4 linked regions of the Homo sapiens genome follow. The protein of the gene in region 1 purifies or fractionates together with the protein of each later gene. This does not show direct contact. Each region holds a gene or a part of one and is shown on either strand. Other genes may lie near its edges.

Region 1 (3,500 bases):
CTGTAGGGTGTTTGTAGATGCCCTATAAGTTGAGGATATCCTCTTTGCTAAGTTTGCTGAGAGTGTTTATAATGAATGGATATGGGTTTTGTTGTTCCTTCCTGTAGGAGTTGATTTTTTAGCTTGTTAATATGATAGATTACATGGTTGATTTTTGAACATTGAGCCGTTCTTGCATACCCTACTTGGTCATGCCGTGACTCCTTTTTGTTTGTTTGTTTTTTGAGATGGAGTCTTGCTCTGTCACCCAGGCTGGAGTGCAGTGGTGCGATCTCGGCTCACTGCAACCGCCACCTCCCAGATTCAAGCGATTCTCCTGCCTCAGCCTCCCGAGTAGCTGGGACTACAGGCACCCGTCACCATGGCCAGCTAATTTTTTGTATTTTTAGTAGAGACGGGGTTTCACCGTGTTTGGATCTCCTGACCTCGTGATCCACCCACCTCGGCCTCCCAAAGTGCTGGGGTTACAGGCGTGAGTCACTATGCTGTGATTCTTTCTATACACTGCTGGATTTGGTTTATTAATATTTTGAGCATTTTTGCATCCAAGTTCATAAGTGATATTGGCCTGTAGCTTTCTCTCTCTCTTTTTTTTTTTTTTTGAGACAGAGTCTTGCTCTATCACCCAGGCTGGAGTGCAGTGGCACAATCTCGGCTCACTGCAAGCTCTGCCTCTCGGGTTCAAGTGATTTTCCTGCCTCAGCCTCCTGAGTATCTGGGATTACAGGCGTCCACCACCATGCCCAGCTAATTTTTTGTATTTTTTAGTAGAGACGGTATTGTGGGATCTGGCCAGAAGCCCACAATGCAACGGGGCTCTTTTATTTGTTCCCAGGCGGATCAGCAGGTCGAGAAATAATAGACACACACAAGACAGTGAAAGCTGGGTCCGGGGGGTGACCGCCTTCTGGTCCTGCGATGCCGCCAATGCACTGGATATACCAGCATTTATTATTAAGTTTAGTGAGGGCGGGGGTAGGTTAGTGAGGGATTTAGGGTCATTTGATTATGAGGTGAGATGGTCACATGGGGATGAAGTAATTCTTTAACATAACATCTGTATGCAGAAGTACAGTATACAGAGATAAGAATTTACAATATAGCATGTGCATCAGTAATTTCTAACAGCCTTAAAACAGAAACACAGGCTTTCCATAACCTATGATTAGCAAGATATTAATCAGCAGTAATAGTTGCAGCAAAAGCTGGTTACAAACAATCCATAGAAACAGGACGTGAAGCTAGACAGCCAGTTAGACCAGAAATTCTCAGAAGGGAGTATGCCTTAACCCTAAAGAGGCCTAGAAGAGCCGTGGCAAGATGAGGGCGTTTATAGCACTATCTTATCCATATGGACAGGCGCCCCCCATGCGTCCGTTTGTAGGCTCTCCACAAGGGTCGCATTCCATTCCCAGAGCTATGAACATCTGCTTTTCTGGGATAGGAATCTTGGTGATGTGAAAGCTCCCTGACTGCATGTCCGTTCATAGGCTCTCTGCAGGGGGAAGCATATCACGTGCTGTTGGCTCATTCTGACAGTCCAACCTGGCATTGTCTTTACACAATCCTGAATGCAACTTTGTATTTACAGTAATCAGGAGCATTTCATCTTTTATTCCATAGCAATAGTTTCAGGGGGTCTCCCTACAAGACAGGGTTTCGCCATGTTGGCCAGGCTGGTCTTGAACTCCTTGACCTCAGGTGTTCCTCCTGCCTCAGCCTACCAAAGTGCTAGGATTACAAGCGTGAGCCACGACGCCCGGCCTCTTTTTTTTTGTACTTATTTTCACTGGTTTGGGTATTAGGATGATGAGTTGGACATGTCCTCTCTTCTCCTTTCTGTAAGAGATTGTATAAAATTGATGTTGTTATTCTTTGAATGTTTGATAGAATTCTTCAGTGAAACCATCTGGGCCCAGAGATTTCTTTTTAAGGAGCTTTTACGTTACAAATTTAGTTTCTTTAATTAGTATAGGATTATTCATTTTGGTAGTTTGTGGTTGTCAAGGAATTGGTCTGTTTCATCTAGGTTGCTAAATTTGTGGGCGTAAAATTGTTTGTAATAGTTCCTTATCCTTTCAATGGCTGCAGGATCTATAATTTCATTCCTTGTCTTGTTCCTGATAAAGATAATTTGTAGGTTTTTTTCATTTGTTTGGTTGGTTTTTTGTTTTTGTTTTTCTTTTGAGACAGGGTCTTGGTCTTGCTAAGACCAAGGCTGGAGGGCAGTGGCACGATCTCGGCTTACTGCAGCCTTGACCTCCTGGGCTCAAGCGATCCTCCTGCCTCAGCCTCCAGAGTAGCTAGGACTACAGGTGCATGCCACCATGCACGGCAGATTTTTGCATTTTTTATAGGGATGGGGTTTTGCCATGTTGTCTAGGCTGGTCTTGGACTCTAGGGCTCAAGAGACCCTCTCGCCTCGGCTTCCCAAAGTGCTAGGATTATAGGAGAGAGCCACCGTGCCCGGCCTTTTCTGCTTTCTAATGCTCTTGGCACCACAGTGACTGTAACATATGTTGTATTTTCATTCTCATTCTATTCTGTGTACTTTAACTTTTTCCTTTGCTATTATTTAGAAATGTGTCATTTATTTTCCAGGAATTTGTGTTTGTGGATTTTCCTGTTGTCTTTTCTGTTATTGATTTCTAGTTTTATTCCTTTATATAAAATATTTCAATTCTTTTATTTTTATTTATTTATTCATTTTTATTTATTTTTTTGAGATGGAGTCTTGCTCAGTCACCCAGGTTGGAGTGCAGTGGCACAATCTTGGCTCCTTGCAACCTCTGCCTCCTGGGTTCAAGCGATTCTCCTGCCTCAGTCTCCTGAGTAGCTGGGATTACAGGCGCCTGCCACCATGCCCAGCTAATTTTTGCATTTTTTTAGTAGAGACGGGGTTTCACCATGTTGGCCAGGCGGGTCTTGAACTCCTGACCTCAGGTGATCCACCTGCCTTGGCCTCCCAAAGTGCTGGGATTACAGGCATAAGCCACCATGCCCAGCCTAAATTTTGTATTTTCAGTAGAGACAGTTTCACCATGTTGGCCAGGCGGGTCTCCAACTCCTGATCTCAAGTGATCCACCTGCCTCGGCCTCCCAAAGTGCTGGGATTACAGGCATGAGCCACCACACCCAGCCTAAATTTTGTAATTTCAGTAGAGACAGGGTTTCACCATGTTGGCCAGGCTGGTCTCCAACTCCTGATCTCAAATGATCCACCCGCCTTGGCCACCTGAAGTGATGGGATTACAGATGTGAGCCACCGTGCCCTGTCAAGATTTCAATTCTTTTAAATTAGCTGAGGTTTGGTCTACCATGGTGAATGTTTTGTGGACACTTAGAAAAAACTGTGTTCTCTTGTTAGGTGAGTGTTCTGCATATGTCGGTTATGTCCTGTTGGTTGCTGGTGTTGAGTTCTTCTGTATCCTTGCTGATTTTCTGCCTCATAGTTTTGTCAGTTATCAAGAGTGAAGTGTTGAAGTCTCCAGCCATAATTG
Region 2 (3,500 bases), on another chromosome or scaffold:
AAACCACTAGCTGTTTTATCAGGAAGGAACAAATCCAAGCTTTGACGTATTGTCAGTGTGCTGCATGTTGTATTTTCAAATTCCTTAAGTGGTTTTAACATTAGATGACCGATTCTTCGGCACTGATGTGCTTTTGATAATATATGATGAGATCTGGCCACGGCTCTGAGGAGTGTGGCTGGCATTACCACATCCCAAGCTAAAAGAAAAGGAATTCAAAGTTCAAGTTTTTAAATTAATGTTTAAAACATATATAATATTTCCCTAGGTAGCAGGCATATTTCTGTTAGAAAAATTTGTAAAACAGATACATTCTAAGTTAATTCTAGTAAAAGAACAAGGTTAAAAATATAAGTACAGTGTTTCTGCCACTTTGCCTTTAGCAACATTTGGCCTTCTTCCTGGAAGATTACAAGATTATAAAGCTACTGACATAACAAGAACCTTAAAAAAAATAGTGATGGGACCACTTCATTTACTTCATTAGCATATCAAGTATATAAAAATCTGTGCTGGCCAGGCACTGTAGCTCACACTTGTAATCCCAGCACACTGGGAGGCTGAGGCAGGTGGATCGCTTGAGTCCAAGAGTTCCAGACCAGCTGAGGCAACATGGTGAAACCTCATCTCTACAAAAATGACAAAAATTTAAAAATTAGCTGGGTGTGATGGCAGCTCATGCCTGTAGTCCCAGCTACTCACAGGCTGAGGTGGGAGGATCACTTGAGCCCAGAAGACTGAGGCTGCAGTGAGTCATGATTGTACCACTGCATTCCAGCCCTTTTTCTGTCTCAGGAAAAAAAAAAAAAAAATCAGGAAAGGTTCCCAGAAAGATCTAAGCTGATTCTAGAAGGCGAAGGTGCTTTTCAGCTTGGGGCTGGGCATGGGAGTGCGAGGCATGTCAGATACACACATGAACATTCCAGACAAGGTAAACAGAATTTCCCCCTTATTTACAGTATGAAATGTGTTATTTTAAAGTTAGCCTATAGTAGGCCACACATGGTGGCTCACGCCTGTAATCCCAGCACTCTGGGAGGCTAAAGGCTGGGGGGATCACTTGAGGCCAGGAGTTCAAAACCAGCCTGGCCAACATGGCAAAACCCCATCTCTACTAAAAATACAAAAAAAAATTAGCCAAGCATAGTGGCTTTAATCCCAGCTACTCAGGTGGCTGAGATATAGAATCGTTCAAACCAGGGAGGGAGAGGTTGCAGTGAGCCAGGATTGCCCCACTGCACTCCAGCCTGGGCGACAGAATGAGACTCTGTCTCAAAAAAAAAAAAAAGTTAGACCGTAGTAATCAATAATTCTTTTTTTAAAAATAATATGTTAGGTGCTAGAGATAGATGAATCAATGATCTCAGAATTCAAAGTCTAGCAGAGGAAAATGAACGAGATGCACAAATTGCTCTAGTCCAGAGAAAGGAGCATGTGAAGAGTGTGGCATTGTCACAGAGGTGACATTTGAACTGAGTCTTGAAAGGGCAGAAGGATCAGCAAGTTAAACACCCCAGGCATGGAGTCCTATTCATCTCCCCATCTCGGGGAGGTAGGAGTGAGCTGCAGGAGGTAAGGACCAAAAGAGCCGATGGCCAGATCACCAAAGGATATATAAAGTCATCCTAAAAAGTTTCTACAGGTGGGGAGAAAGCTGAGCTTTTAACTCAGAGTCACACGGTCAAATGCATGTTCATGAAACAAATTTTTGGTGATGATATGTAGGAGGAAACAAGACAGACTCTGACATCACTCTGAGCGCTTTCTACATGCTAAGTGCTCGGCTTCACCTCATAATGATCCCATTTCACTGATTAGGAAACTGAGGTTTAAAGAGGCTAAGTGCTCACCGTTAAGAAGCTGCAGAGATGTAACTAAAATAAAACCCAGGCTTTCCCAATTCCAAAGTCAACACTCTTACCCACTACCTTGTATTTACTACCTCTCTTCAGGATAAGGACAAAGATGATTCACAGTGATATTTAGGAGGTAGAACCTGCTGCTTCCAAAATCCCTTCAAAAGCTCGCATTCTGTGCTTCATTCTAGTCCAATTGGCTACTGTAGTTCACCTTTAATTAGTACTATGCCATGCCAGTTGAACCACTTAATTTTGAAGAAACTATAAAATATTTTAGAAGTTTGTCTACAGTCCTGGATTCTTTTTATTCTCTTTGAGTAAATTCTTTTTTTTTTTTTTTTTTTTGAGATGGGAGTCTCGCTCTGTCACTCAGGCTGGAGTGCAGTGGTGCCACCTCAGCTCACTGCAACCTCCGCCTCCCCGGTTCAAGCGATTCTCCTGCCTCAGCCTCCCGAGTAGCTGGGATTACAGGTGTCTGCCACCATGCCTAGTTAATTTTTTTGTATTTTTAGTAGAGACGGGGTTTCATTATGTTGGCCAGGCTGGTCTTGAAATCCTGACCTCAGGTGATCCACCTGCCTTGGCCTCCTAAAGTGTTGGGATTACAGGCGTGAGCCACCGGACCCAGCCCATTTTTATCACTGCACCTTCTAGAAAGCCTAAGATTACATTTGTGCCTTACACTGTTTTTCTATCAGACAGGGCCCTATTGTCATTATCAATACATCGGACCTCCTCATCTCAGTTTCATCCATTTTACTCTCTAAGCACCACCTCCTATCTTTGCATCTCACTCCTTCTATTACCCAATTCCAATAATTCTTCAACCCCAACAGGACCCACAAGTCAATGATCCAACCACCTTTTCACTGTCTCTCACTCCCCATGACTTCACTTCCTCCATATCCAGTTTACACTCCATGGTCTACCATTCTAACCTCTCCCTTATACCCCTAGAATCCCTTGCATCCCTTTCTTCCCAGTCTTTCCCATTCATGAGCAGTAATAAGTATCTTTATAACTGCTAAGCCAAAAACGTGGGGTCCAGCTTGACTCTTTATTCTCCATATCCAACTTCTCAGTAAATCCCAAGGGCCTTCTAGGGACCACTGCTCATCATCAGTAATAATACTACCTGATCCAAACTGCTATCCTTCCCATGGATTATTATAATAGCTTCTTAACCAGTTTTCCTGATTCTGTTTTGGGCCCCCTACAGTTTCTTCTCAACACAGCAACCAAAGTGATCCTTTGAAGTTGAATCTCAACGCGAAATCTAGCTGTGGCTTCACGGTTCACTTAATAAAAGCCAAAGCCCTCCAACCAGGCATGGCGGCTCACGCCTGTAATCTCAGCACTTTGGGAGGGATCACTTGGGGTCAGGAGTTCCAGACCAGCCTGGCCAACACGGCGAAACCCCGTGTCTACTAAAAATACAAAAATCAGCCGGGCATGGTGGCATGGGCCTATAATCCCAGTTACTTGGGAGGCTGAGGCACGAGAATGGCTTGAATCTGGGAGGCGGAGATTGCGCCACTGCACTCCAGAATGAGCAACAAAGCGAGACTCTGTCTCAAAAAAAAAAAAAAAAAAAAAAAAAAAGCCTGGCGCGGTGGCTCACGCCTGTAACCCCAGCATTTT
Region 3 (3,500 bases), on another chromosome or scaffold:
GTAAACAGCAGTTTAGTTTTATACTATTATTAGTACTTAGCTTATTTATATTGTGAGTTAAGTAACTTTCTGTGGGCTTATCAGGAGAACTAGCCAAACTTTATTATGTTGATTGTATGAGAAAATGCATTTTTACATTCCAATCAAGTGACTCAAAAATACTACTCAGTTGAACCATGTGAAATTGTTGATTGATATTCAACCATTTTTGACAAAAATGGCAGTTTATTTTGAAATGCAGTCCTGTTGACAAGATGGAAATTACCTACACATTGATTTATTAATTTTATATTTAATACATTCATGTATCCTTCAAGATGCTAATCCTACACCTTAAGGATATTGGGTAAATCACAGAATTTTGAAGAAAATTTGTGTGGAATATTGGGGCTTTCTTGGGTCCAACCCATTTTTTTTCCACTTAATCAGAGATGGAGCAGACATGAGGACTCTGGAATTTTTTATTTTTTGAACTGATAATAGAATGAAAATGCAGATTCATTTGTTCTATTTTAGGCCCCAAATTAACCATTCTATTTTGAAGATTAAGTTTAATAATAATAGTAATAGCAAACATTTATTAAGTGCATGCTACATGCTAAGTACTGTTCTAACTCTGCAACTGTTTTATCTGCAAAGTACTATTATTATCCCTACTTACTGATGAGGAAACTAAAGTTTAAGTAACTTGTTCCAGGTTATACAGCTAGTAAGTGGCAGAGTTGGCATTAGAATCACTCAGTCCTACTACCGTGTTTACTGTTTACCTCAAGCACATGGTTTTACCACAGTAAAGCACTCATGCTAAAAGATTATGATTCAATTCAGCAAATATATATTTAAGCTATGATTATTAGTGAAGCCAGACCCATTCACATATGAAACATATTGTATTATTATCAGAGACCATTATAAGACAGTAGAGGACCAGGTACCAAAATTAGTCTTATAGACCACAAGTGCTATAGGAATCTCAGAAGAGGAGAAAATAATTGTGTACTTTGTCATGACTAACTCCCAGAAGAGCATTGACAAATAGTACCTCAGTATTGGATGCACAGCATTTTGGGAACAAACCAAAATTACATCATAAATAGCAATGTGGCAAAATCATGAATGTGTAATAATGAAGTCCAATGGGGAGCAGCAAATTCAAGGTTTTCTTTCTTTCTTTCTTTCTTTCTTTCTTTCTTTCTTTCTCTTTCTCTTTCTCTTTCTCTTTCTTTCTTCTTTTTTTTTTTTTTTTTTTACAGAGTTTTGCTCTTGTTGCCCAGGCTGGAGTGCAGTGGTGCGACCTCAGCTCACTGCAACCTCTGCCTCCCAGGTTCAGGCGATTCTCCTACCTCAGCCTCCCCAGTAGCTGGGATTATAGGCACCCCCCACCACCACACCCGGCTAATTTTGTATTTTTAGTAGAGATGGGGTTTCACCATGTTGGTCAGGCTGGTTTCGAACTCCTGACCTCAGGTGATCCGCCCACCTCGGCCTCCCAAAGTGCTGGGATTACAGGCGTGAGCCACTGCTCCCAGCCAAATTCAAGGTTTTCTGTTCAATTTTCTGTTCAACTCAAATTCTGAGTGAGCATCCTCAGTATGTGTGGGAAGTTAGAAATTTGTGGCTAGGCTCTCTGAATCCCAGAAATATATGAAGAAATGGGACCTGATGGATTATTTATTAGATATTCAGGGTGGAAGAAATGGGATTCAGAAATTAACCAAAATGTCATGCCTACATGATTGGAATAATAATGGTATCAAAAATAAAATGGTTTGTACAGTGGAGGGGAAGATGGGCTCAGGCTTTAGACACATCAAACTTAAGGTACAGGTAGACTGTCTATGGAAAGCTGGTTTTTTATGTTGGCTATGACTGAGTGGGGTCAACCTTTGACTAATGTACTTGTAATTTTTACAGATGGCCCTATTGAATTTCTTCTTCCCTGATGAAAAGCCATACTCTGAAGAAGAAAGTAGGCGTGTTCGCCGCAATAAAAGAAGCAAAAGCAATGAAGGAGCAGATGGTAAGTCTACTCAGTTGATCCTTTATCACTTCTGAATTATTTGTTAGTAAAAGTATCCTTTTAAGAACTACCTTCTTGGTAGGGCATGGTGGCTCACGCCTGTAATCCTAGCACTTTGGGAGGCCCACGCGGGCAGATCACTTGAGGTGAGGAATTCAAAACCAGCCTGGCCAACATGGTGAAACCCTGTCTCTACTAAAAATACAAAAAAAATTAGCCGGGCCTAGTCCCAGCTGCTTGGGAGACTAAGGCAGGAGAATCGCTTGAAACTGGGAGGTAGAGGTTGCAGTGAGCTGAGACTGTGCCACTGCACTCCAGCCTGGGTGACAGTGCGAGACTCCATCTCAAAAAAAAAAAAACAAAAAAAAAAAACCACTACCTTTTCAAGTGTGCTTCATCATCTTATATACTGTCCACCACAGACCCAAGGTCATAGACTATTTCTGCAGCCTAACCTACCAATCAGTCCTTTAACATAGAACTAACTATACAAGGATCCTCCCTCCTCCAACTCCAGATACCTTCAGTCCTTTCTCAGTATGTCTGAGAGCCATGATAGCATTTGTATCTCTCAAAATCACCCTCTATAAGGGCCTCATCTCTCCCGGAGATGTCCCACACCTATTAAGGTCAACAGGAGGATTTGGTTCTATTCTTGGAATTGACAGTGTTGTACCCTGCTAGCACTTACATGATGTGTTAATTCCAATGATAATTTTATCAATGTTGGTATCCACTACCATGCCCAAATCTGAACTAGACCTTCTAGAACTAGTTTATAAGTTTCTTGTGGGCAGAGATTTCATTTCTCTTTGTATAAGCCTAGAATCTAGCCTACTATCTGGAACATTGTTGGTGATTGTTATGTAAGTCGATGATGTTGACTGCCCCTTCAGCTAGGCAGTGATGTATCAATGGAAACCATCCCTGTTCTGGGTGTAATAGCTTTGAGTTAACTAGCAATGCATTCTGTGGGGCATAACAAAATGTTGAGCTAGCTCCTGGGCAGGGTCTTTGAATTGCTCTGATATTTCAGCATCACTCTGTCAATTGACATAATGCTACCCCTTTGGGCACAGGGGTTTGTAGAATACATAGCTCTGGGCTGCTGCAAAGGCATCTGGATTCAAAGACAGCATGTGTCTGGCTACATCTGCCAATAATATGTGTCTGGAGGGTTACAAAGCAATATGACTTTATACAGATGAAAATGAAAATTTTAAACTGACATTTGTTGATGTGAGTAAGGGCCACTGATGGAAGCAGTTTTAGAGGGCGGAAGCTATTAAAGAGATGGAGCCAGGACTTTGTCAGTAGGGGCAATAAGAAGTATAACTGGCTGAAATCTGAGAAAGAGCTCAGAACAAGGACCCCATAATAATACCAAAAAAAAAAAAAAAAAGAGCCAGAGCAGTAAGATAGGGTTTTCTAGTCAGTGGAGGTGGCAGCAGCATTGAGCCTTTGAATGGAGAACTGGACC
Region 4 (3,333 bases), about 93 Mb from region 1:
GAAGAAGACACAGCCTCTCTCCTTGAAAGTTTATAGTGTGTTGGAACAAATCTCACTGGTTTGTACACATTAAACACCTAATAAGCATGAGAAATAGTTCAGGTCTAGAAATAGCTAACTTCCGAGGACACAGAAAGGCTCACCAAGGAAGGGGCATCTGCAGTGGCTGTGTAAAGAGAGATGAGATTTGAGATGAGGACGGAGGAGGCACTTCCCAGGCAGAAGCAAGCACAAGAGCAGAATCACAGGAGCAAGAAGAGGAAGGAATGTTTAAAACAATGAGTTCTTTGTCTAAAGCATAGAAAGCATGGAAATAGTAGAAAAGGGAGGTTGGAGGTGGCCTGTTAAACAAAGTCCAACCCTTTACCCTGCCTTGATTTGATAAGCAATTGGATTCCACTGAAATCTTAGAATAATAAAGTGGCAACAAATGGTCAGTTCTGTTCCACAATTCCTGAGCATTTGCTTTGTGCCTGGCACTGTACTGGCATAAGGAGTCAAAGGTGAGGAAGACAGAGTTCCCTCTTTGGGGAGCCCTTCAAGGCTAATAGAGATAGACAGACAAAATTGGCAAGAGTGAAAAAAATCCAAGTAGACAGAAAACAAATTGGAAGAAAGTCTCATATGCTAGTCAGAGAGGATGACAACCTAAATTAGGCAGGTCTCACTCAAAGGGAAAGGAGTTTGGGGGTAGAGGAAGGAGGCACAGGTAGAACCAACAGGACCTGCCTACAGGCTGGATAGGAATGGTGAAAGAGGAGTAAAAGCTGATTCTCCCTTTTCATTATTGTTATTTTTTTGTTAGCTTGGGTGATTGGAAAGTTTGACTCTCATAATGGAAATATAAGAGTGAAAAACAGATTTGGCTGCAGAGGTTGGATCAGGTCAGTTAGAGACAATTTAAATTAAATGATTCTACATTCTTTTTCTATAGTCAACAAGAAAGGAGGAGAAATTGGATTACAAAAATAAGGGCATTTAGTTGTCAAGGAGTGCCAAATTTATTTTATGTTGTATTTGTAGTAGTTTAAATTTTTCAGTGTGCTGAGGCAGTAGATAAGAAAGCTATCAAGAATTTAATATCTTCTCTTATAGGTTGTGGTTGTGCATATAAAAATAATGAGATAATTCTGGAGGACAATTTGGCAATATCTATTAAAGTTAACATTTAAAAGAATCACACTGTTTGAGCAAATAGTTCTATTTCTAGGGGTCTGTTCTACAGAAAAGTAGCTCATAGAACCATTTAGCCAGTGCCCTGGGTGGGATTTGAACCCAGGCCTGTATGAGTCCAAAATCTGCAAGTTTAACCATTATGTTATAATACTCTCTTAGAGCCAGGTGTGGTGGCATATGCCTGTAATCCCAGCACTTCGGGAGGCTGAGGTGGGCGGATCACCTGAGGTTGGAGGTTCAAGACTAGCCTGACCAACATGGAGAAACCTCATCTCTACTAAAAATACAAAATTAGCCAAGCATGGTGGCGCATGCCTATAATCCCAGCTACTTGGGAGGCTGAGGCAGGAGAATCACTTGAACCCAGGAGGCGGAGGTTGAGGTGAGCTGAGATCATGCCATTGCACTCCAGCCTGGGCGACGGAGTGAGACTCCATCTCCAAAAAACAAAACAAAAAAAAAACACTCTCCTAGGGACTTTTTCTTTAAAAAAAATACTTGTTTAAAATTCCATGGTAAATAAGAAGTATAAAATATTTTTTATGTAGAACTCCCCACCCCTATACACATATCCATCAATAGAGAATTGGTTAAATTAGTTTAAGATCATCCTTATAATGGAATAATGTATAGCCAATAAAAATAATACATTTATTTAAAAGGAAATACCTGATACTTCAATATGTATGCATCAGTATGATCACACTTTAAAATTTATATTTATAAAATTAAATTTGACAATGATGTATTCCAAACTTTATATATTATATATAAATACATATATATTACTGTATTATATAGTTTACTTAAATATGGTATTGTATTTGCATATAAATACATGTGACTAAGTATATGTAAATATATATACAAAACATATATAATTATATATATAGTGTATCTATATATTATATGTATAATATACCATAAATGTCAAGAAAACTATTTTCACATTGACAAAGAAAGCAAAGTAAAGAATTTGGCCAGCACCACAACTGAAGAAAAATGAAGATATTCTATAAGGGGCCATACTTATCATCAGGTGAAATATTGATCCCATTTGCTGAATCAAATCCTTCTGCTACCACTTTAACTTCATTTGGACTGTAGTAAACAACATTTGCCCAGTGTAAGTTCAAGTATGTTTCTAAATACTTTAAGAAAGGATCAGAGAAGTAGTGGTCATTTGTGGCATAGAAATGTGCCGGTCCAACAGCTGTGATGTCATTCACACTGAAAAAGAAAAATAGCATGTGAGAGGAAACAAAAGGCCTGTTGGTCTCCATATTAAATATTAAGTACTCATAAGATTTATGCAACATGTGCTTTAAATTTTTGGTAAGAGGAAAAGACGAGCTAAAAATCACGACTATAGTCATATACAATATACTATAATATTGTTGCCAGAGAACAATTTTGTATGGTACCAGGTAATCTGAACACAGGTCATTTAGCAATTATGGCAGGATTACCATAAGAGAAGAAAGAACTTAGTGCCATCAGGGCATGTTTTTTGACAGCAAGAAATGTAGGGTTTAACAATTATACGTAAGGACAGAGCTGTCCACAGTACAGAGCTGGAGAGAGCCTGATTGGCTGGTGAGCTGGTTAGGCAGTCAGTAACATTTACCTAGCTTCCATTTACTCAGTTCCTGGATTTTTCTAATTTCCCTGGCTTAGTTATTAGTCAAACTAAGGTTGACTGTTCAATTTCTACCTGCTTCACAAAGCTGACATGCCGAGAATGAACAGGCACTCAATAAACACTTGCAGAGAGATGGATGATAAAATTGCCATAGTACAATGCTTCAGGTGAGAGATTTATATGCTAAAAACAATTTCATTTTAAGACCAGTTAGGTGAGGGTGTTATTAAATTTAAATTCCAATTACTCTATGCAAAAATTTCTGAAAGAGCTGCTTTATTCTTTGCTAAATGAAAAATATAGAGCTACAGGGAAGGTAGGTCTCATTTTTCTGAAAGAGCACCATAATGCTTGGATGGTATTTATGCTCCTATTTTTTTTTATCAAGTGCATTTTTGGAAGGAATGATTGGAAGTTACATGCTTATGCCCTAGATAGGCATAGATAGGCCCTAGATAGGCAATATTTTTAATTTCATTAGAAATGAAATTTCATTAGAAATTAAAAATATTCAT

What was found. The genes of interacting proteins can lie anywhere in the genome.
Region 2: the proteins of CHST12 (region 1) and RMND1 purify together in Homo sapiens (affinity purification with mass spectrometry; 2 studies listed by BioGRID and IntAct, with this or other methods). This does not show direct contact.
Region 3: the proteins of CHST12 (region 1) and EDA purify together in Homo sapiens (co-immunoprecipitation; one large-scale study listed by IntAct). This does not show direct contact.
Region 4: the proteins of CHST12 (region 1) and PON2 purify together in Homo sapiens (affinity purification with mass spectrometry; 3 studies listed by BioGRID and IntAct, with this or other methods). This does not show direct contact.

Annotation. Positions count from the first base shown.
Region 1 is NC_000007.14:2,427,611-2,431,110, forward strand, and holds part of CHST12 (carbohydrate sulfotransferase 12), read left to right. Parts: intron 1-3,500. UniProt on the Homo sapiens protein: Catalyzes the transfer of sulfate to position 4 of the N-acetylgalactosamine (GalNAc) residue of chondroitin and desulfated dermatan sulfate.
Region 2 is NC_000006.12:151,445,627-151,449,126, forward strand, and holds part of RMND1 (required for meiotic nuclear division protein 1 homolog), read right to left. Parts: intron 200-3,500; 5' UTR 186-199; coding exon 1-185. UniProt on the Homo sapiens protein: Required for mitochondrial translation, possibly by coordinating the assembly or maintenance of the mitochondrial ribosome.
Region 3 is NC_000023.11:69,955,113-69,958,612, forward strand, and holds part of EDA (ectodysplasin-A), read left to right. Parts: intron 1-1,914; coding exon 1,915-2,020; intron 2,021-3,500. UniProt on the Homo sapiens protein: Cytokine which is involved in epithelial-mesenchymal signaling during morphogenesis of ectodermal organs. Functions as a ligand activating the DEATH-domain containing receptors EDAR and EDA2R. May also play a role in cell adhesion.
Region 4 is NC_000007.14:95,407,696-95,411,028, forward strand, and holds part of PON2 (serum paraoxonase/arylesterase 2), read right to left. Parts: intron 2,407-3,333; coding exon 2,206-2,406; intron 1-2,205. UniProt on the Homo sapiens protein: Capable of hydrolyzing lactones and a number of aromatic carboxylic acid esters. Has antioxidant activity. Is not associated with high density lipoprotein.